3 linked regions of the Homo sapiens genome follow. The protein of the gene in region 2 purifies or fractionates together with the protein of the main gene of each other region. This does not show direct contact. Each region holds a gene or a part of one and is shown on either strand. Other genes may lie near its edges.

The links. Proteins that work in one complex are often made in the same cells at the same time.
Region 1: the proteins of CLUAP1 (region 2) and IFT172 purify together in Homo sapiens (affinity purification with mass spectrometry; 2 studies listed by BioGRID and IntAct, with this or other methods). This does not show direct contact.
Region 3: the proteins of CLUAP1 (region 2) and TRAF3IP1 purify together in Homo sapiens (affinity purification with mass spectrometry, with the first as the bait; 2 studies listed by BioGRID). This does not show direct contact.

What each region holds. Positions count from the first base shown.
Region 1 is NC_000002.12:27,479,742-27,486,763, reverse strand, and holds part of IFT172 (intraflagellar transport protein 172 homolog), read left to right. Parts: intron 1-521; exon of another isoform or gene 522-605; intron 606-1,260; coding exon 1,261-1,404; intron 1,405-1,633; coding exon 1,634-1,746; intron 1,747-2,497; coding exon 2,498-2,537; intron 2,538-2,597; exon of another isoform or gene 2,598-2,736; intron 2,737-2,826; coding exon 2,827-2,892; intron 2,893-3,104; coding exon 3,105-3,184; intron 3,185-3,387; coding exon 3,388-3,475; intron 3,476-5,503; coding exon 5,504-5,718; intron 5,719-6,614; coding exon 6,615-6,738; intron 6,739-7,022. UniProt on the Homo sapiens protein: Required for the maintenance and formation of cilia. Plays an indirect role in hedgehog (Hh) signaling, cilia being required for all activity of the hedgehog pathway.
Region 2 is NC_000016.10:3,531,984-3,539,005, reverse strand, and holds part of CLUAP1 (clusterin-associated protein 1), read right to left. Parts: intron 6,221-7,022; coding exon 6,165-6,220; intron 5,908-6,164; coding exon of another isoform or gene 5,851-5,907; intron 2,885-5,850; coding exon 2,735-2,884; 3' UTR 1-2,734. UniProt on the Homo sapiens protein: Required for cilia biogenesis. Appears to function within the multiple intraflagellar transport complex B (IFT-B). Key regulator of hedgehog signaling.
Region 3 is NC_000002.12:238,316,370-238,323,519, forward strand, and holds the start of TRAF3IP1 (TRAF3-interacting protein 1), read left to right. Parts: upstream 1-4,148; 5' UTR 4,149-4,293; coding exon 4,294-4,416; intron 4,417-7,150.

The DNA.
Region 1 (7,022 bases), on a different chromosome or scaffold from region 2:
ATGCAGGTAGGGCTGAATGCCCAGAATTGGGCAAAGCGATAAAGCAGGAGGATCAGCAAAGATTGATGAGGAGCCCTCAGGCCTTCTAACCTAATATAATGAAGAGTTAGAGGATCATAGTGATGGTGGTGTGGCTATTTTCTGGTTTGAGGATTTGCAGGAAAATAGACTTTTTACTTCTGACTTTGGAGATAGGTGAGTTTGGAGTGTAAAGTGTCAATGTTTGAAGCCAGAACTCTAGTGTCCAAATAATTAAACAATTGGGGCAGAAGAAAAGCAGAATAAAATGTTTTGTTTTCAAGGAAGGAAACCCTTAGTAGCAGAGCTAGTCCCTTAGGACCAGAGCTAGTGTTGGAAGGGTCAGATCTGGTCAGAATAATTCACCTGGAGATAACTTCTAACTTGGGTTTCTCTGAAGTGGGTAGTTAAGAAGAAAAGAAAGTGGGATTATTCGTCCTGAGTCTCAACTCGTACTCGCCCATCCTGAACTCTCACTGTCTCTCCCTTTCCTTTCAAATAAGCCCAAACTCCTTTGCCTGGCTTCAAAGACTTCCTGAGCTGGCCTGTTTTTCCTGCCTTACCCCGTCTATTCTACTATTTATAAGGTATAATAGTTTCAAATAAACTAAATTACTGTTTCTTGTCCAGAATTTGCCTTTGCTCATTGCCATTCCTCCCATCTCAGATAACTTCCTACTCAACTGCATTCATTCTTCAAAGCTTAATTTTGATAATTTAAGCATAAAATTCTCTCAGGCTTCTCCAAACTATTGTAGTACTTTATACATACTTTAATAGGACTTTTCTATTTTGCACCATCTTATTAGACGTGGAGGCAGGATCTATGGTTTGCTTTTTGTCTCTCTCTCAGCCCCTGGCCAAGTGCCTTGATCAATAAGGTGCTAAAAAAATATTAATTGAATGAATGGCTAATGACCAAAACTTACCAGACTAATTGAATTTATTTCAGTAGCAGACCTGGAAACGAGGAGGCCGTTGCAGGGATTCATTGATACAGTTGACTTAGCACCCTGCCTCTTAGTGCATTTGCATATGAGTCTCTAGAAGCCTGTTGTTCTCACAGTCCAGGATCTGAAGGCCTTGGAGACCAGCATGGGCCACAGGCATCTCTTTGTTTTGAGGATAGAACCGTGACAGGAAGAAAATTGACCAGTATTACACTAGAATTAATGAAGCTAGAAATGCTTTTGGCATTCTAGACCAGCACATGGGTTTGTTTTTACCCCTTTGCCTCTACAGGATGGAGCTGCAAAGGTGACCTGCATGGCTTGGTCCCAGAACAATGCCAAATTTGCTGTCTGCACAGTGGACCGAGTGGTCTTGCTGTATGATGAACATGGAGAACGGAGAGATAAATTCTCCACCAAACCAGCTGACATGAAGGTAAACAGTGTATTCATGTGTACCTTATTTAACCTATTGATGGGGTCTCACAACTTGAAAGACGTAGTCTGCCTTCTAGCCATCAGCATAGGAAATGGCATACCCCACCTTTTTCTCAGTATAAATCCTCAAGCTCCCTTAGGAGCACACATATGCCTTTTTTTCTCTTTTCTCTTTCATGTGTACTCATTACTTCTTTTTCTTTCTTTTTTTTTTTTTAAACTCTTAGTATGGCAGGAAGAGCTATATGGTGAAGGGCATGGCTTTTTCTCCTGATTCCACTAAAATTGCCATAGGACAGACTGACAACATCATCTATGTCTACAAGATTGGAGAAGATTGGTGAGGATAGAGACTGGGAGATGGGATGGCCCAGGAAAGAAGGGGAAGGCAAGAGAAATGCCTCACTGGGGAGGGGAAATACAGGGGATGAGAAGCCAAGCTTGGCCATTGAAGGCAGAGACTTTCTGGAGTCTGTTTTTGCTTTTCTGCCTTCACCTGTCCCACGTGTTCTTCAATCCCATCCCTGGAGGAAACAGTCCAAGGTCAACAGGAGGCCCTGTGAGATCCTGGAAGCCCAGAGTGATGTCACATCTTTGTTATTGTTCTGAAGCTGCTTAGGCTCCCTCATATACCTCCTTTCAGGGCTCCTACAGAGTAGTCAGAAATACTACTGGGCCAGGGAAGAAATCTGCTCTTTCTTCTCTTCCCTCAGCATCATTTTTGGCAATTTGTTTATGGAAGTGGTATTTATTTATTTATTTATTTTGAGATAGAGTCTCACTCTGTCACCCAGGCTGGAGTGCAGTGGCGCGATTGTGGCTCACTGCAAGCTCCTCCTCCCAGGTTCACGCAATTCTCCTGCCTCAGCCTCCCGAGTAGCTGGGACTACAGGCGCCCACCACCACACCCGGCTAATTTTTTGTATTTTTAGTAGAGACGGGGTTTCACTGTGTTAGCCAGGATGGTCTCGATCTCCTGACCTCATGATCCTCCCGCCTCGGCCTCCCAAAGTGCTGGGATTACAGGCATGAGCCACCACGCCCGGCCTGGAAGTGGTTTTTAATATGTTTCCCCTTCTTTTGTTTGGCAGGGGTGACAAGAAAGTCATCTGCAACAAGTTCATCCAGACGGTAAAGTTCAGACCAGTCCCTGGAACCTTAGGATGAACAAACATATATCAGTATATCTACTTATAAATACAGCCAGGAGTTGCATTTCTAACATCTGAATGTGACTTTTCCTACTGCAAGGATGGTGCTTCATGGCTGTTCATGGTCATCTGCTGTCTTCCTTAGAGCCCTGCTGTGTCCTTCCCTATAGGAGATTGAGGTGGTGGTGTGTGGTGGGGTGTTGAAGTTGTTATAAAAGTGCTGGCCCACACAGATGGGGTTATCCTTTTCATTGTTTCCTTCCACGCAGAGTGCTGTCACTTGTCTGCAATGGCCGGCAGAATACATCATTGTCTTTGGACTGGCTGAAGGGAAGGTAAAAGAGGGAAGGGAAACACAAGAGAGGGGGTGGTAGGGATAATGGTTCTGGAGAGAGGAATATGGTTCATCCTCTTTCTTAGGATCAAGTTGCGTACTGGGGAGAATGCATAGGGACCAGTTTTGTGGGACAGTTTTTCCTTTTTTTCTTAGGGCCTAGTTAAATATAAAATAGCCTAACCATACTTGTATCAATTTTTCCATTTTCAGGTTCGTTTAGCAAACACCAAAACTAATAAATCATCTACCATCTATGGGACAGAGTCTTACGTGGTGTCCCTGACAACAAAGTGAGTAAAGAGGAGTAGTATCACTAGAGTCTGGAAGTGTTAGGAAAATGCTGTGGGGAAGTCTGGACTGCAAGACCATAGTATGAAAGGCAGGAGAACTGGTAGCAGGAAGCACAGACAAGGTTGTGTTTGACAGAGAAAGGGGCTTTCTTGGTGAGATAAAATAGTCTCTTCCTGTATTTCTCTCCTTTCTCCTTTTTTAGTTGCTCTGGGAAAGGAATTCTCTCTGGTCATGCAGATGGTACCATCGTTAGGTATTTCTTTGATGATGAAGGCTCTGGAGAGTCACAGGTATGAATAAAGAATGTTGTGGGAGGCTTGGATTGCTTGAGTCCAGGAGTTTGAGACCAGCATGGGCAACACAGTGAAACCCTGTCTCTACCAAAAAAACAAAAAATAAATACAAAAATTAGTCGGGCATGGTGGCATGGGCCTGTAGTCCCAGCTACTCAGGAAGCCGAAGTGGAAAGATCACTTGAGCCCAGGAGGTTGAGCCTGCAAGTGAGCTGAAATAGCACCACTGCACTACAGCCTGGGTGACAGAACAAGACCGTGTCTCAAAAAAAAAAAAAAAAAAAGATGCTGTGGAATAGGGGATAAGGAAATTCCAGGAGCCCTCCTAGAGGAGGTTGGACTTCTAAGGCATTTGGATTGAGATACTAAGAGAGGAAGCTAGAGGAGAACTCAGGGACAGAGAAAAAGTTGGATGTGGCCACTGAGAGGATTTGTGTTTAGGAGCCTGGAGCTTACTGCTTATAAGAAGGGATGAATTAGGTGAAAGGGACCTTGAGACAAAGGGAAATAAAAACTCTTAGAGTAATGAAAAGTGAAAATTATTCCCATTTATGTAAAATATATATATTTATGTATGTAGATTCATAGAAAAAAGAGTTAATAGTTTACTCTGGAAAGGGGAAAGGAAAAAGATGGGGGATAAAAAGGAAACTTTCATGTTTTACTCTATATAATTGTGTGTTGTTTGAATCATTTACATTAAGAATTACTTGTGAGCCGTGCCTGTAATCCCAGCACTTTGGGAGGCCGAGGCGGGTGGATCACCTGAGGTCAGGAGTTGGAAACCAGCCTGACGTGAAACCCGTCTCTACTAAATACAAAAAAATTAGCTGGGCGTGGTGGCACATGCCTGTAATCCCAGCTTTCTGGGAGGCTGAGGCAGGAGAATCGCTTGAACCTGGGAGGCAGAGGTTGCAGTGAGCCAAGATCGCATGCCATTGAACTCCAGACTGGGCAACAAGAGTGAAATGCCATCTCAAAAAAAAAAAGAATTACTTGTATAGGCCGGGCACAGTGTCTCACTCCTGTAATCCCAGCACTTTGGGAGGTCAAGGCGGGTGGATGACCTGAGGTCAGGAGTTCAGGACCAGCCTGGCCAACATGGTGAAACCCCGTCTCTACTAAAAATATAAAAATTAGCCGGGCATGGTGGAACGTGCCCGGAATCCCAGCTACTCGGAAGGCTGAGGCAGGAGAATTGCTTGAACCCGGGAGGGGAGGTTGCAGTGAGGTGAGAACGCGCCACTGCACTGCAGCCCCGGCGACAGAGTGAGACTCCATCTAAAAAAAAAAAAAAAGAAGAATTATTCGTATAATACTGAAATTTGACCCTCCTTAAAAAAAGAAGCCCTATGCTCTTTGTGGGCCCAGACGGTGTTGGTTAATGTGTAGCACATCTCCTTTTCTGAGGAGCTTTACCAGGTGCATATTAAAAATTTCCAATACATGCTGGGCGTGGTGGCTCACGCCTGTGATCCCAGCACTTTGGGAGGCTGAGACGGGCTGATCACAAGGTCAGGAGTTCGAGACCAGCCTGACCAACATGGTGAAACCCCATCTCTACTAAAAACAGAAAAATTAGCCTGGTATGGTGGCACACACCTGTAATCCCAGCTACTCAGGAGGCTGAGACAGGAGAATCGCTTGAACCTGGGGAGGCGGAGGTTGCAGCGATGAGATTGTGCCACTGCACTCCAGCCTGGGCGGCAGAGTGAGACTCTGTCTCAAAAAAAAAAAAAAGAAAAAAGAAAATTCCAATATACAAGCATTTTGAGGTTTTTCTAGAGCACAAGGTCAACCCCTATGTGTATAGGGGTGTGTGTGTGTGTGTATGTGTGTGTGTGTGTGTGTGTGTGTGTGACAATTTGTGAAGAGTTCAGGATTAGGATGTGTTGGGATAGGGAAATGTTGGAAGAGATTTCTGCAGGGTATGATGGTCAGAGTGAATGTACCAGGTGTTGAGAGTGAGGAATTTCTCGGGTGGAGTCTTCGAAGAGTGATTGAAACCCTCTACTTCTGTCTTAGGGGAAGTTGGTTAACCACCCGTGTCCACCCTATGCCTTGGCATGGGCAACCAATAGCATCGTGGCTGCAGGCTGTGATCGGAAAATTGTAGCCTATGGAAAAGAAGGTCACATGCTACAAACTTTTGATTATAGCCGTGACCCTCAGGAGCGGGAGTTCACCACAGCTGTATCAAGTCCTGGGGGCCAGTCTGTTGTGCTAGGAAGTTATGACAGGTAAGTCCCCTTTCCAGTTTTATCTACTGCCTACTTTCCCTGCGAACACTCTCTGCTTTAGCCAAATTATTCTGAGCCAGAGTGCGAGACTGGAGCAGAATCAAATGTATGTATGTAATTCATGCGCTTTCCTCTTCCTGCTCCCGCTATCCATTGGTGTGCTGGCAGTTCCAAAATGTCCTGGGCTCTTGTTTTGTCTCTGTGCCGCTCCCTGCACTTCCACAGCAGAATTCATCTCTATTTTCTGTTTCCATTGCCCCCTTTGAGACCGCTTAGAGTTTCTCACATTATATTACAGTTTGTTGTTTGCAAACTACTGTTGTTTAGCCAGATAGATGGCTAAATCAGAGTCCTTGAGAAGGGGGCTTATTATTCATCTTTTCAGTGCCTAGATTAGCATCTATATGCTATATATATTTAAGATATGCTCAGATGTTTGGCGAATGAATGAATGAATGATGGAACAGCAGATAAACAGCCATGTTCCAGGTCTCATCATTTCTCTGGCATGTGTTTAACCCCAGCTTTATCAGTCCTGTCTTTCTATCCCCTTCAATCTTATGTCTCCTTGTATTCTCTTCTTTCTTCACTGACTCCTACCATTTATCTCCTTGTTCCATATTTTTTTGCTCCTAGTAGCTTATTTTTCTCACCTGCCCTGGTCTTTTTGTTTTCTCTGCTCCCCTCACTCTTATTCTGTTTTAGTTTTGCCTTGATTTTCCCAGCTTATTTCCTGTGCACCTTTATATCCTCTTCTGCTAGACTGCCTAGCTTGTCTGTTCTTTTTATTTCCTTTCTTTTCTGATATAGCAAGACTAATTTCCTTTGGTTATCAGCCCATTTGCACTCTTTAGCTCAGCCTCAATCTCTTCTAAAAGCCACATACTTTATTTCAGGCTTCGGGTGTTCAACTGGATCCCTCGAAGAAGCATCTGGGAAGAGGCAAAGCCCAAGGAGATTACCAATTTATACACCATCACTGCCTTGGCCTGGAAGCGGGATGGCTCACGGCTCTGTGTGGTGTGTTACTAGTAATCCCTTTCTGGATTGGTGACTTTCACCAAACTAGAAAAAAATCCTGCCTTATCCTAAAGCACTGTTCCCTGACACTATAGAATCTCCTCTTTCCTTTTGACCCTGACCTAAAATTCTGGCATTAAAGGCAGGAAAGAGAAATTCATACTTTACCCTAGGTCACAAAAGGGACAAAAAATTGTGTGTAGGCAGGGCTAGTTTTTCCCTTTTATCCCATTAATATGTTGTGCCCTTGAGTCCAATGATTGTAGCCTCTTTCCTTTTGGTAA
Region 2 (7,022 bases):
TTTTTTTTTAAAGCATTTTAGGAAGTCCTCTAATTATATAGTAAAAATTGTCAGCAATGGCCTGCTAGTTTTCTATTTGACCTAATCACAACCATCCTCGTTAGGTCCTGAGGTCTGCTCTGCTGCTTGGCCAAAACCAAATGGTGCCAGGTCACAAAGCACTTGCACATGTGAATCCTGCATCCATTCTACAATGGGTCACTATTGACTGAAATACTTTAATAAAAATGATAGAGCACATAAAGCTTGCTGTTGACAGAAACTTCCGTGCTCAAGCAAGGCAGTGCTATACATGGTGAGACCTTGCACAAAGTCAGTTAACTAACAGATGATCTAGAAGCAGGTGACACAATGAAATACCCTTTGGAGCTGTTGCCTATGTCTGTGGATAGGCTCTTTGTAGCTAGGTTAGGCTTCTGTGTTAAAGTGTGTTAGAAGAAAGCATCACATAAGGAAAATAGAACTCTATTCGTATGTTTTTTCAAAACAGAAGTCAAGTCACATTCAGGCAAACCAAATCTGTAACATTCAAGAAGATGCAGTGACTCTTCCGCATCTTAGAGCCACGGTGTCTGAGGTGGCTGGCATGGCTCCAACACGCTGGCTTCCCTGTCAGTGGATCATTTACAATATGGTGCATTTCAAATTACTGGTGAATTCACTGAATACTGGCTGTTTTTTTTTTTTTAGGGGTAATCTTATACATAAAATTTAGGAAAAGAAAGAGAAAAAAGCAAAAATGACAGAAATAACTCAAAAGTTCCTAAAATTTATGTGTATCTTTTCGTACCTGTGAACTCCTGAATAAGTATTTATATCTGACAGGTACAAATACAATAATTATATTTTTAAGTAAAACCTATTTAATAATATGAAGTATGGTGTTAAATACATGTATTAAAAGATAAGTAACTTCAGAAGTCTTCTGACTTTTTAATTGTAAAATAAGTGAAAACTGTTTTGTGCTTTTTTATTTACTGTATGCTTTTTTTTTTTTTTTTTTTTTTGAGATGGAGTCTCACTCTGCTGCCCAGGCTGGAGTGCAGTGGCGCCATCTCGGCTCACTGCAACCTCCGCCTCCTAGGTTCAAGCGATTCTCCTGCCTCAGCCTCCCCAGTAGCTGGGGTTACAGGCATGCGCTACCACGCCCGGCTAATTTTTGTATTTTTAGTAGAGGTGGGGTTTCGCCATGTTGGCCAGGCTGGTCTCAAACCCCTGACCTCAGGTGATCTACCCACCTCAGCCTCTCAAAGTGCTAGGATTACAGGCATGAGCCACCACGCCTGACCTACTGTACGCTTTTTACAAGCAGCGTGCTTTTCTTTTTCTTTTTTTTAAAGACAGGGTCTCACTCTGTCACCCAGGCTGGAGTGCAGTGGCATGATCACGGCTCATTGCAGCCTCAACTTCCTGGTCTCAAGTGATTCTCCTGCCTCAGCCTCCTGAATAGCTGAGACCACAGGCATGCCCCTCCACACCTGGCTAATTTTTTAATTTTTTGTAGAGATGGAGTCTCACTTAGTTGTCCAGGCTAGTCTAAAACTCCTGGGCTCAAGTGATCCTCCCACCTTGGCCTCCTGAGTAGCTGGACCCAAGGGCGCTTGCCACCACTCCCAGCTAAGTACTTTTCATATTAAAAAAAAAGAAGAAGAAAAAAGAAAAAAACCAACTCCACTTCTAATTTCACAACAGAAAAATTCTTCTAGTGCTATTACTCTACTTAATTCAATCCTGTGTTGTTGTTTTTTTAAATCAGAAACATGAATCTGTACCAACACTTTTTCTTAATTGGCTCCTTCCCCTACAGAAACACTTAGGTAGCGAGCTGCAGGAAACCTGCCTTTGTCCCTGTGTTGTGCACTATGTCTTGCCACACTTTAGACAAAACAAAGCTCCTTTAGAGAAACCCTGGCTGGAGGGAAGAAAAGTGTCCCGGCTGTCATTGCCATGGGAGTCTGGAGTTTCTGAGAGGGCAGCCCAGGTCACCAGAGTTTCCAGATTTAGTACCAACCGTGGAAACATGAAGGTGGCTGTAATCCAAGGTGAACTGGACTGCCAGAGGAATGTCAGCTTCGGACAGAAAATGGAGGATTCCTCATCTGGAGCCTGTCTCTATTGCCTGATTTTCAAAGAAACCAAGTTTTCATTTAACTTTAGCTAACCTTCTTTCAGAAAAGTTTAGTTATTAAAATACATTTAATGCTTGGTATTGTGAACATGCAGACGAAAGAAAATAAGATTACAAAATGAAATAAGAGCTAGAATTAAAAGCCGATGTATAGGAAATGTTCTCAACTGTGCAAGTGATTAACAGCCAGATGTTCCCCTACGATTCCAAACATGAGTCCCCAGTGCCAAGTTCCAGCCCCAACTCTGCTGGAGTCTCAGAGAAAATGTATAGTAACAAAAGCAGCCAAGACTTGTGTGGCGTCAGCTCTTATTTCTTCTTGAGTTTTTGTCCCGTGGATGTGAATCACTAAGAACACATGCATTCCTCAAGTTTTAGAAGATAAATAAGGTGGAAAAAAATAAATCTTAGGGATTTGCTTCAATTCTTATTTAAGCTTCATGGAATGCAAACATAGGAGGCTAAAGCAGAAATAAGTATTGCTTCAGTGATCATGAGTCCAGCCAGCTTAGTAAACAAAACAGGGGTTACCTTCCTAACCTTCTAAGTTCCCATTTACCTACAAGTCTGAGGGTTTTAATCTGCCAGGGTCCCTTGGCAAAAGGGTCAGAAGTCATTGTCACTCTCATCCAGGGGTTCAGATTTCCGGACCCTTCGATTGGGCTTGGTTGGTGAGAGAGAAATGCTCTCGTCTTCCAAATCGTCATCCTCGTCATCATCATCTTCCATGTCAATTTCACTCTCCTCCGAGTCCTCCTATAGGAAAAAAATGGCAGATGCAACGGGGGATCCTGCCTCATTCCTGACATCTTGTCCTAAGACTCTCTGCCTCCCTTTCTATAGCAGCATCCCTGTGTGAAGGAAGAGGCTGGCAGAGTGGCAAGCAGGCTGTGGGAGGGCATACAGATGGGACTGAGGCTATGTACTGCCAGCTGGAATTTATCATCCAACCAGAATCCTCCAAACTGCAGGTGCATCTGGGTGTGGTGCTGCAGGGGCTGGCTTTCCCGCAGCGTCTAAGAAGCACTCTGCATCTGCGCTGAGGGCCACTGGACCTAGAGACTCCCCCTACAGATGGCAAGAAGGACAGGGGCTTGGAGAGAGGGAAGGGAGGCCTGTTTTGGCTTTTTGTAGATTGTGGATGGAAAGCAACATAGACATTGGTATAAGGAGCAAAGTGAATCCCAGCTACTCCGGAGACTGAGGCAGAAGAATCGCTTGAACCTGGGAGGCAGAGGTGCAGTGAGCCGAGATTGCACCACTGCACTCCAAAGCAAGACTCCATCTCAAAAAAAAAAGAAAAAAAAGAAAAAAAGGGAGCAAAGTGAAAGACACACCCTCTCTCTCCTCATCGGATCCAGGGCTCCAGGGTGACCAACTCAGCCCAGCTTTAAAACGGCAGTTCCTGCGTCCCATGTAAACCAGGATGGCTGGTCGTTCTATCTAGATCATTCCTGTCGGTGCACACTCATGCTGTAATTTCCTTCTTGAAAAAAAACCCCAAAGGTAATCCCACCTTCCTCTCCAGCTGCTCTGCCCTGTCTCTCTCCCCTCACACAAAGCTCCTGAGCGAGTCGTTGAACTCACTGTCCACACCTGTGCCCCTCACGACTGCTTCAGTTCCCCCGGGCTCTCACCTACTGACCCCAGCACTGCTCCTGTCAAGAAGGAAACATTCAACGGACTGGGATCGATTCTCAGGCCTCATCCTGCTTGAGCTGTGGAATCACCCCTTCATCCTTAAAACCCATCTTCTCCATCCCCCAGGGCCCCTTCTCTAGTCCAGGTCCCCCTTCCTCACTGCTGACGCCCCTCAGCCTCCTCTGCCTGCCCCTTCCTCCCGGACCTCTGCAGGGCAGATGCAGCTCAGGACCTTGGGTCGCCTCTCTTCTCATTCTACTTGCTCTCCCTAGGCAGTCACATCTATCCTTGTGGCTTAGATACCAACCAAATAAGGGTGGCTCCCAAAATTCAATCTCTAGCCCAGACGTGGCCCTTGAACTCCAGACTTAAATTCCACCTGGCTACTCAACCCTAGCATGTGGCTGTCACATTCAGAATGTCCAAAATCAAACTTTCGATCTGCCTTCCAAGCCCCTTTGTCAAGTCGGCCCCATCTCAGAAAATGAAACTCTGCTTTCTGCTGATTAGACCAAGCCCAGGCACCCTCATTTTTCTCTTTCTCTAACAGCCTATGTCCAATCAATTCACAAAACCTGATGGTTCTTAGAGAGACCCAGGACCTGACCATTTCTCAACACCTCTGCTGCCACACCTTCGGCCAAGCACCGTCACCTCTGACCTCCACGGGTGCAGGCGCCTCCTAACTGGCTTCTCTCAAACAGGGATCATCAGCTCTTGACCCTTCTGGGCTCATGATTCTTCAGGGCCTTCCCCTCACACTCAGAGAAAACAGAGTCTTCATCTCACCCTGCAAAGCTCTGCATGGCCCCTGCTGCCTCTCGCACTCACCCACAATCACACCAGCTGCCTCTGCTCCTCGATGCGAGGAGTGCATTCCACATGCCCAGGTGCCGCCAACCCATGCGCTCGCTCCCTCCACTCAGGCCCTGCTCAAACACCACCACGTCAGGGGCCTTCACTGACCTCGCAGAAGACGCCACCCCCTCCTTGTTCCCTGTCACTCCCTGTCCCCTGAAGCTGTTATTCCTCCTGTTAACACCATGAGCCCTGATCCGACAATCCATCATTATTGCTGGGGTGTGAGCCATGAAGCAGGGGCTTGCCTCTGCCCCTGCTGCGTTCCCCATAATCCACGACAGCACTGGCATGTGGCAGGCACTCAACAGACACGTGTTGGATGCCTGAACACGTAAAGCATGGAACCCTGTGCCTGGAGGGCGGCATGGACACAGCCTCCTTGAAATAAACAAGTGACCACCAGGCATAAAGCTCAGCTGCGACTAATGCATTCGCTCTGAGGAGAGAGAAGGCAAACCCTGGAGAAGAGGCAGGCGGTGCTGCCTCAGCATTGCCAGCACCCACGCCACACTCCCTCTGCTTCTGTCTTGGGTGGGCAAGACGGAGAGACGCTGTATACCATCCACACCCGAGCTTGTTAGGAAAATTATTTTCCAGTTGCTCTCTCTGCTTCTCTACAGACTGTGCCCTGTAAATTCAGGGCACATGGAGGCAGCCTGGGGTCAGTCTCTGTTGAGTCGCCCTTTGCTGTGTGGGCCGAGCAGCACTGCCAGGGACGCAACAAAGAACGTAGGCTTGAGCAATGGGCGGCAGAGCCCTGATGACTGGACCTCACTGAGGACCCCTAGAATCCCCTTTTGCTTAAGTGCTCCAGGGAGTTATCCACTCAGTAAAGCTCAAGGCAGCTTATGTCTCAGCCTCATGCCTGGCACCTCGAGGGCCTGGTCTGGGGACAGTGCTGCTTCACCATTCCGTCCCCAGCACAGAACAGGGAGGGGGGTTGGTCCTGAGCCCGGCCCTCGGCGTCCTCCTTCATTTCTAGGTGGCGGCCCAGGGCCTGAGGATGGCCCGGCCTGAGCTTTCCCCGCCTCCAGGCTCCGTGCCTGCGCCTCCACTTTAGCACAGGGGCCTTCAGTGATCCCGCTGTCACCACAGGATCTCTTTTGAGTGGCCTTTTTGCCCAGGAGAGAGGAAGCATCACTCCTAGGGAGAGGCCCCTGGCTGGCCCCGGGAGGGCTGACAGACACCCACAAACACATGAGGCAGAACAGAAAACCAACCTGCTTCTTGGAGCTGGAAGTCTTGCATTTACCTAAGAGAGCTGGTGCTGCTTCCATCTTTGGAAAGCGAGAATGGAAAGAACAGTGAGAAGGCAAAAAAAGCAGAGCAAGCACATTCACTTGAAAAGAGATGAGCCATCCACGAGCAACGAAGAGTCCAGAGCCTCATGAGGCCAAACCCTGCCACGCATCGAGGCACGGCCGGGCTGACCATAGACGGCTCCCTGGCTGCTGACAGCAACTCAGCCACTCCCATCTATGGGGACAGCCAAACCCAGAGTGCACAGAACCACTGAGGGGAGCGGGGGACTTACATTGTCATCGGAGTCTCCACCTTGCATCGTGCCCACAATGCGTTTGCCAGGTCTTCCTGAGAACAACAAAAGCATGAAGAAGTCATAAAAATCTTGGAAAATAAAGCAGGAAATAGCATTCAAGATTTGTTTTCTGGCCAGGCATGTTGGCTTTTGCGTATAATCCCAGGAATTTGGGAGGCTGAGACAGGAGGCCAGGAGTTTGAGGCCAGCCTGGGCAACATAATGAAACCTCATTTCTACAGAAATTTTTTTAAACATTAGCCAGGTATGGTGGTTCACACCTGTAGTCTCAGCTACTCGGGAGGCTGAGGCAGGAGACTCGCTTGAAACCAGGAAGCAGAGGTTGCAGTGAGCTGAGATCGTGCCACTGCACTCTAGCGTGAACGACAGAATGAGATTCTGTCTCCAAAAAAAAAAAAAAAAAAAAAAAAAAAAGCAACTGTGCTCCAAACATTAACAGGTGGTAGATAAGAAATGTTTTTAAAGGCAAATATAGGAGAATTTTATAGTATTAAAATAAAAATTTATGGAACCTTTGACCTAAGAATTTGACTTTTAATGATGCAACCTAAAGATATGCAGACATGCAGAAAGATGTATATACAAGGAAAAGAGGGGAAATATCAATGCGAGAACGCCCAGTAAATCATGGGTACAGTCCTGCTAGGAATATGACATAGCCATTAAAAAGTAGGGGGCAGGCCAGGAGTGGTGGCTCAGGCCTGTAATCCCAGCACTTTGGGAGGCCGAGGCGGGTGGATCACCTGAGGTTGGGAGTTCGAGACCAGCCTGGCCAACATGGTGAAACCCCGTCTCTACTAAAAATACAAAAATTAGCTGGGTGTGGTGGCACGG
Region 3 (7,150 bases), on a different chromosome or scaffold from region 2:
CCTCTCGGCCGAGTCTCACACAGCCAGCCCACCTGCAAGGTGCAGTGTAGGAGGAAGCAAGGCCAACAGTTAGAAGGAGATGAGCCCTGGCCCCTTTCATCTGGCCTCTGTCTAGGTGACCAAAGCTCACTTGGTCCTGGATATAGTTAGCAGCATGAGGAGTGATGTTCCTAGGACCAGTGGACAGCATGGACGCTGCCTTCTAGAAGGTCTTAACTCCCCATTAAATCCCCAGCACTCAGACAGTAATCCATACATAGCAGTGATTCAGTAAATGCTTGAATGATACTTGATGTGGTATCTTCACTAGAGATATATGAATATTTAGCAAGGGCAGGGAAATATGCTCAAAATCACTAATCACTACAGAAATGTAAATAGGAACCATAACAAGACACCATTCCACACCCGTAGAAAGATGAACGTTAAAAAAGACTGACAGGGGCCGGGTGCGGTGGCTCACGCCTGTAATCCCAGCACTTTGGGAGGCTGAGGTGGGTAGATCTTGAGGTCAGGAGATTGAGACCATCCTGGCCGACATGGTGAAACCCTGTCTCTACTAAAAAATACAAAAAATATCTGGGCGTGGTGGCAGGCACCTGTAGTCCCAGCTACTCAGGAGGCTGAGGCAGGAGAATGGCATGAACACGGGAGGCGGAGCTTGCAGTGAGCCAAGACAGTGCCACTGCACTCCAGCCTGGGCGACAGAGCAAGACTCTGTCTGCGGGGTGGCGGGGGGGTGCAGGTGGGAAGACTGACAGGCTGGGCACAGTGGCTCACACCTGTAATCCCAGCACTTTGGGAGGCCAAGGCGGGCAGATCACCTGAGGTCAGGAGTTCGAGACCAGTCTGGCCAACATGGTGAAACCCCATCTCTACTGACAATACAAAAATTAGCTGGGTATGGTGGCGGGTGCCTGTAATCCCAGTTACTCAGGAGACTGAAGCAGGAGAATCACTTGAACCCAGGAAACAGAGGTTGCAGTAAGCTGAGAGCATGCCATTGCACTCCAGCCTGGGCAACAGAGCAACACTCCATCTCAAAAAAAAAAAAAAAAAAAAAAAACCCAAAAACAAAAAGAAGAAGAAAAACAAAAAGACTGACAATACCAGATGTTGGCAGGGATATGGAGTAACTTGGGATTCAATATATTGCTGGTGGGAATGAATGATGATGCAGCCACTTTAAAAACAGCATGGTAGTATTTGTAGAGTTAAACATATTCTTACCATACAACCCAACAATTCCAATACAAGAGAAATGAAAACTTTCACAAAGACTTGTAAGTGAATGGTTATAGCAGCATTTTTTTTTTTTTTGAGACAGAGTCTCACTCTGTCACCCAAGCTGGAGTTCAGTAACACGATCTCAGCTCACTGCAACCTCCGCCTCCCAGATTCAAACATTTCTTGTGCCTCAGCCTCCTGAGTAGCTGGAATTACAGATGCACCCCACCACGACTGGCTAATTTTTGTATTTTTAGTAGAGACAGGGTTTCACCACATTGGCCAGGCTGGTGCTGAATCCCTGACCTCAAGTGATCTGCCCACCTTAGCCTCCTGAAGTGCTGGGATTACAGGTGTGAGCCACCATGCCTGGCCAGCAGCATTATTCATAAAAAATAAAAAACTGAAAGCAACCCAAATGTCCATCAACTGATGAATAAACAAATTACACTATGAAATACCATTCAGCCACAAAAAGGAATGGCATATTAATATACGTGTAACAATATGAATGAATCTCAAAAATATAAGAGAAATAATGAAATACAAAAGACTGTGTACTGCATGATTCCATTTATATGAAACTCTAGAAGAGGCAAAATTATAATGACAGAAACCAGATTAGTGGCTGCCTGGGGCTGGGGTGGGGAAGGAGATGGGCTGCAAATAAGCAGCAAGAAATGTTTTAGGGTGCAGGGACTGTTCTGTATTCTGATTGTGGTGGTGGTAACATAATTGTATATAATTACCAAAATGTATCAACCTGCACACTTAAAATGTGTGAATTTTATTGTATGTAAATAATAAAATATAAATTTTAAGTAGAAGAGACCCCCACATCTAGATATACCATGTGCAAACTTCTGGCAAACCAATAATAAAAATAAAATCTTGAAGGCAGCCAGAAACAATAGACAGAAGAACAAAGAATTACGGAAGACTTTTATTCAGAAACTACGCAAGCCAGAAGTCAATGGAGTAACATCCTTAAAGTACTGAAAAACAAAAACAGTCAGTCTAGAATGCTACACTTTTCTTTTTGTTTGTTTTTGTTTTTTAAAGACAGAGTCTTGCTCTGTTGCCCAGGCAGGAGTGCAGTGGTGCCATCTTGGCTCACTGCAAGCTCCAACCCCCGGGTTCAAGCGATTCTTGTGCCTCAGCCTTCCAAGTAGCTGGGGTTACAGGCACACACCACTACGCCCAGCTAATTTTTATATTTTTAGTAGAGACAGGCTTTCACCATTTTGGCCAGGCTGGTCTCAAACTCCTGACCTTAAGTGATCTGCCTGCCTCAGGCTCCCAAAGTGCTGGGATTACAGGCGTGAGCCACTGTACCCCTAGAATTCTTTTTTTTTTTTTTTGAGACGGAGTCTCACTCTGTCACCCAGGCTGGATTGCAGTGGCATGACCTCGGCTCACTGCAAGCTCTGTCTCCTGGGTTCAGGTGATTCTCTTGCCTCAGCCTTCCTGGTAGCTGGGATTACAGGCGCCCGCCTCTGCACCCAGCTAATATTTTGTATTTTAAGTAGAGACGGGGTTTCACCATGTTGGTCAGGCTGGTCTCGAACTCCTGACCTCCCAACTCTAGAATTCTATACTTCTATGCTTAATAAATATTTGTGGCTGAATTTACTGGAGGTGGTTATAGGGGGACATGGAAGGAAAACTATAAAAATGCAATTTAGTATTTGTTGATAAACCATACAGCCTGACTGGCATTGAAATTGGTTGTCTGTATAACTTTTCCATTACCAACTGAACTGTGCTAGAAGAAATATTAAAGGAAGTTCTTCAGACAGGAGGGGTATGACACCAGATGGCGATTTAGATCTCCACAAAAAATGAGGAGGCCTGAAAATGGTAAAAATGAAGGTCAATTTAAAAGTTATAATGGGGGCGGTCGCGCACACCTGTAATACCAGCACTTTGGGAGGCCGATGCGGACGGATTGCCTGAAGTCAGGAGTTCCAGACCTGCCTGGCCAACATGGTGAAACCCCGTCTCTACTAATAATGCAAAAGCGAGGCTGGTGTGGTGTCGGGAGCCTGAAGTCGCAGCTACTCATGAGGCTGAGGCAGGAGAATCACTTGAACCTGGGAGGTGGAGGTTGCAGTGAGCCAAGATCGTGCCACTGCACTCCAGCCTGGGCGACAGAGTCAGACTTCGTCTCAAAAAAAAAAAAAGGTTATAATGGTGTTCTCATTAGAAGAACTACAGACCCCAGAGCTCTCAAATCGCCGGAAGGATTTCTGCGGTAGGCCTGTGCATGATGGACAGAGGACAGGTGGTAAAGAATCACGGACACCTAGTAGGACAACTAGGCATGGCTTTGTCCCGGTTTCAGAGCACCGACACAGCATTTAGTCACCATTTACCTTCTTGGGAGGTGGGTTAGGCAGCGGGCACACTAGTCCTGCTTTGTGGGAGCAGAAGTGAAGTCTCAGAGAAAACAGGTGACTTGCCCAAGAAGCCTTATTAATTACCAGCCAGGACAGCGTATTTTCTATTCCGTGTGTTTTGGGATAACTTAGTGCCGTCCCCTCCGATGAACCAGTGCCTTCGAAAGCCCTTGAGATTTGGGAAACAGGCGGCACAGATCTTGGAGGTTACCTTGTTCTTAATCAGTCCTCAGGCAGTCGCCTCTAACGCGAGCGAACACCGGCTTCCCGAGGCCGTCGCTCGGCAGAGGAGGGGCCAGGCGCCCGATCCCAGATCCCCTTTCCCCGCCCCGCCGCGCCCCGCCTGCTCTGGCACAGCCGCACTCCCGCAAATCCCTCCCGCGGAACCCCCACTCCTGCCTGCGCGGGCGCTGGAAGGCGGGCAGGGGGCGGGGCGCCGCGGCGCGTCCGTTGCTAAGGCCGCGCAGCCCTAGTGACCGAACGCCCTGCGGCGGCCGCGCAGGCGCTGTGGTGGGCTCCGGTGCACTGTGGGATGGAAACCGGAGCGGCGCGTCCTGGCAGGACCGGGCGGCGGCGGCGGCGGGGCCGGCGGCGGCCAGGGACCCGGGCTTAGGCTCGGCCAGGCCGGCTGAGGGGCGCGGGCGGCCAGCGGGCGGCGGACGCCGTCATGAACGCGGCGGTGGTGAGGCGGACGCAGGAGGCGCTGGGGAAAGTGATTCGGAGGCCGCCGCTGACCGAGAAGCTGCTGAGCAAGCCCCCGTTCCGCTACCTGCACGACATCATCACGGAGGTGGGCGCCGGGGACCGGGCCCGGCCAGGTGCGGGTCGGGATTCCGGTGGGCGCCGAGGTCAGGGCCCGGGCCGGGTGGCGCCGGGTGCGAGCCGGGCTCGGGCTCAGGTGCGGGTCGGGGGCCGGGGCTGGGCCGGAGTCGGGGCCCGGGCCGGGTGTGAACCGGGTGTGGGCCGGGCTCGGGGTGCAGGTCGGGGACCTGTTCAGGGCCGGGTGTGGGCCGGGCACAGGGTGCGGGTCGGGGGCCGGGGTCAGTTCCGGGGTCGGGGCGAGAGTTCTGTGCGGCCCCTGCCTGGGAGCCCGGCCTGTAGGCCCAATTCCGCGGCGCCCTCCGTGAGGAGGTCCTGCCCCTCCCCCGGCTCCGGGCCGCCGCTTACAAGGAGGCTCCGGGCCCTCAGGAGCATTCTTACTTCTTCCCTGCCTGCCCTTGTATTTCCTTAGAGTGCATCTTCCATTATTGCTGGCAGAGCTGCTTCTGTGACTCCTGCCTCGTCTAACCTTGCAGAACCCCTCTCGCTTGCCCTGAAGTATGTAGCACGTGGAAGGCACTCCCTAAATCCTGGGAGAATGGAAATAATATTTTTTATACAACCCTTCTGCCCCAAAGTTTCCCTCCATACCACATTTTGGGTGCTTAATAAATGCCTGCGGGTGGATTTAGTGGAGGCGGCTGTAGGGGGACTTGGCAGGAAAGACTGTAACAGAGCTGCACAGCCTGCCCTACGTTGAGATTGGTGGTCTCTGTAGCTTTTTCCACTTGCGGATGGTGTGCTCCTCCGTGACGGAGACCCTGGCTTGCTTATTAGCATGGCTCTGGTGATCTGCACTGGGTAAGGTACATAGAAATTGCACAACAAACATCCCCTGTTGAGTGGGACCTGTCAAGGCTCGTGGTAACTCCCTGGTAACTCTCAGGAGCGTCACTGCAGCGGGCGCAGCACCCATTTCCATGGTGGACCCAAGGGCACGTGGGAACTCAGAGGTGTGTTTTGGGATTTAGGATTCAGGTTGGACTTGCAGACTTCCAGGGCCTCATGACCTCACCTGGTGATGGTCCTCAAGCTCTGTTTCTCACTCTTTTCAACAGGTTGGGTGCCTTATTCTTGCACAGACTTTGCTTTACTGGTTCTGCCCTCCTACCTTAGCTTATAACGTGTGGTCTCCTGGAGCGTGTGCCTCTGTGTTAAAACAGTGCCTAAAAATGCTCTCGAATCCACCCACATCCCAGGGCCTCGCCAGCCCTGGTCATGTCCTCCCAGCTGGTGCAGCACTTACAGCCTGTCCTGGACAGTGTGTGGGGAGAGGACCTGCTGTGTGGATAGCCCGGTGGGAGGGGGACAATGTGCCGCATCACCACCGTCCCGTGAAGTAGGCGGGTACCCGTCCTCTGACCCAGAGGGAACAAGAGCCAGTGTGAGCCCAGCCCACTCTAGCTGTGGCTGCCAAAACCTTTATTCTCCCAGGCCTGTCTGTCCCACTGAAATGCAGAGCCCCAGGAGGGAGGTGCAGGGAGTGTGCCTTATCCTTGTGGGGCAGTGATGGCGCTCAGCTCACGGTGGCTGTCCAGTCACTACCGCATAGTTGGTCAGAGGAATCCTAATGGGAGAGGAGGAGGAACATGGGCTGGGTGCTGTGGCTCACGCCTGTAATCCCAGCACTCTGGGAGGCCAAGGCGGGCAGATCACTTGAGCCCAGATGTTCAAGACCAGCCTGGCCAACATGGTTAAAACTCCATCTCTACTGAAAATACAAAAATTAGCTGAGTGTGGTGGTGCACCTGTAATCCCAGCTACTCAGGAGGCTGAGTAGGGAAGATTGCTTGAGCCGGGAAGGTTGAGGATGCAGTGAGCTGTGATTGTAACACTGCACTCTAGCCTGGGTGACAGAGTAAGACCCTGTCTCAAAAAAAAAAAAAAAAAAAAAAAAAAAGAATTGCCTTCTTGGCCAGGTAGATAGGGTGTGTGGAACGAGTTGCATGTTCCCAATTAGGAACGACTGGTCTGCTCTTCTCCCATAGACTTCCTCATCTAATGCCAAAGTTGATTTCTCTCCCTGTGTAAAGATAAATAAATTATGACCTACTTGATAAAGTTGTTAGAATGACTGACATATTGGAAAGGATTTTCAGATAATAGGTGGAGAGCCTCTTATGAAAATGCTTTACTGTACTGAATATTATACACACATTGCTATATTAGTATTTTAGCTATAGCTACACTAACCACCCCGTTTCATTAAGCTAAGTGTGGATACTGTGACGTTAATGTCTCTTGTCACTTACAGTTATTGTTCACAATTTTTTTTTTTTTTTTAGAGGGATTCTTGCTCTGTCGCCCAGGCTGGAGTGCAGTGACACAGTCTCCACTCACTGCAACTTACGCCTCCCAGGTTCAAGCAATTCTCCTGTTTCAGCCTTCTGAGTAGCTGGGACTGCAGGCACATGCCACCATGTCCAGCTAATTTTTCTATTTTTAGTAGAGATGGGGTTTCGCCATGTTGTCCGGCCTGATCTCGAACTCCTGACCTCAGGTGATCCGCCTGCCTCGGCCTCCCAAAGTGCCGAGATTACAGGTGTGAGCTACTGTACCCAGCCTATTGCTCACAATTTTAACTGCCAGCATCCTGGGAAAACCTCAACAGGGACAAAATGAAAATGTTCCAGGAATGTTAAATGCAGGATGCTCTTAATATTCTACCTGTCATCTCAAGAAAAACAGTAGCATAGCTCTTACAT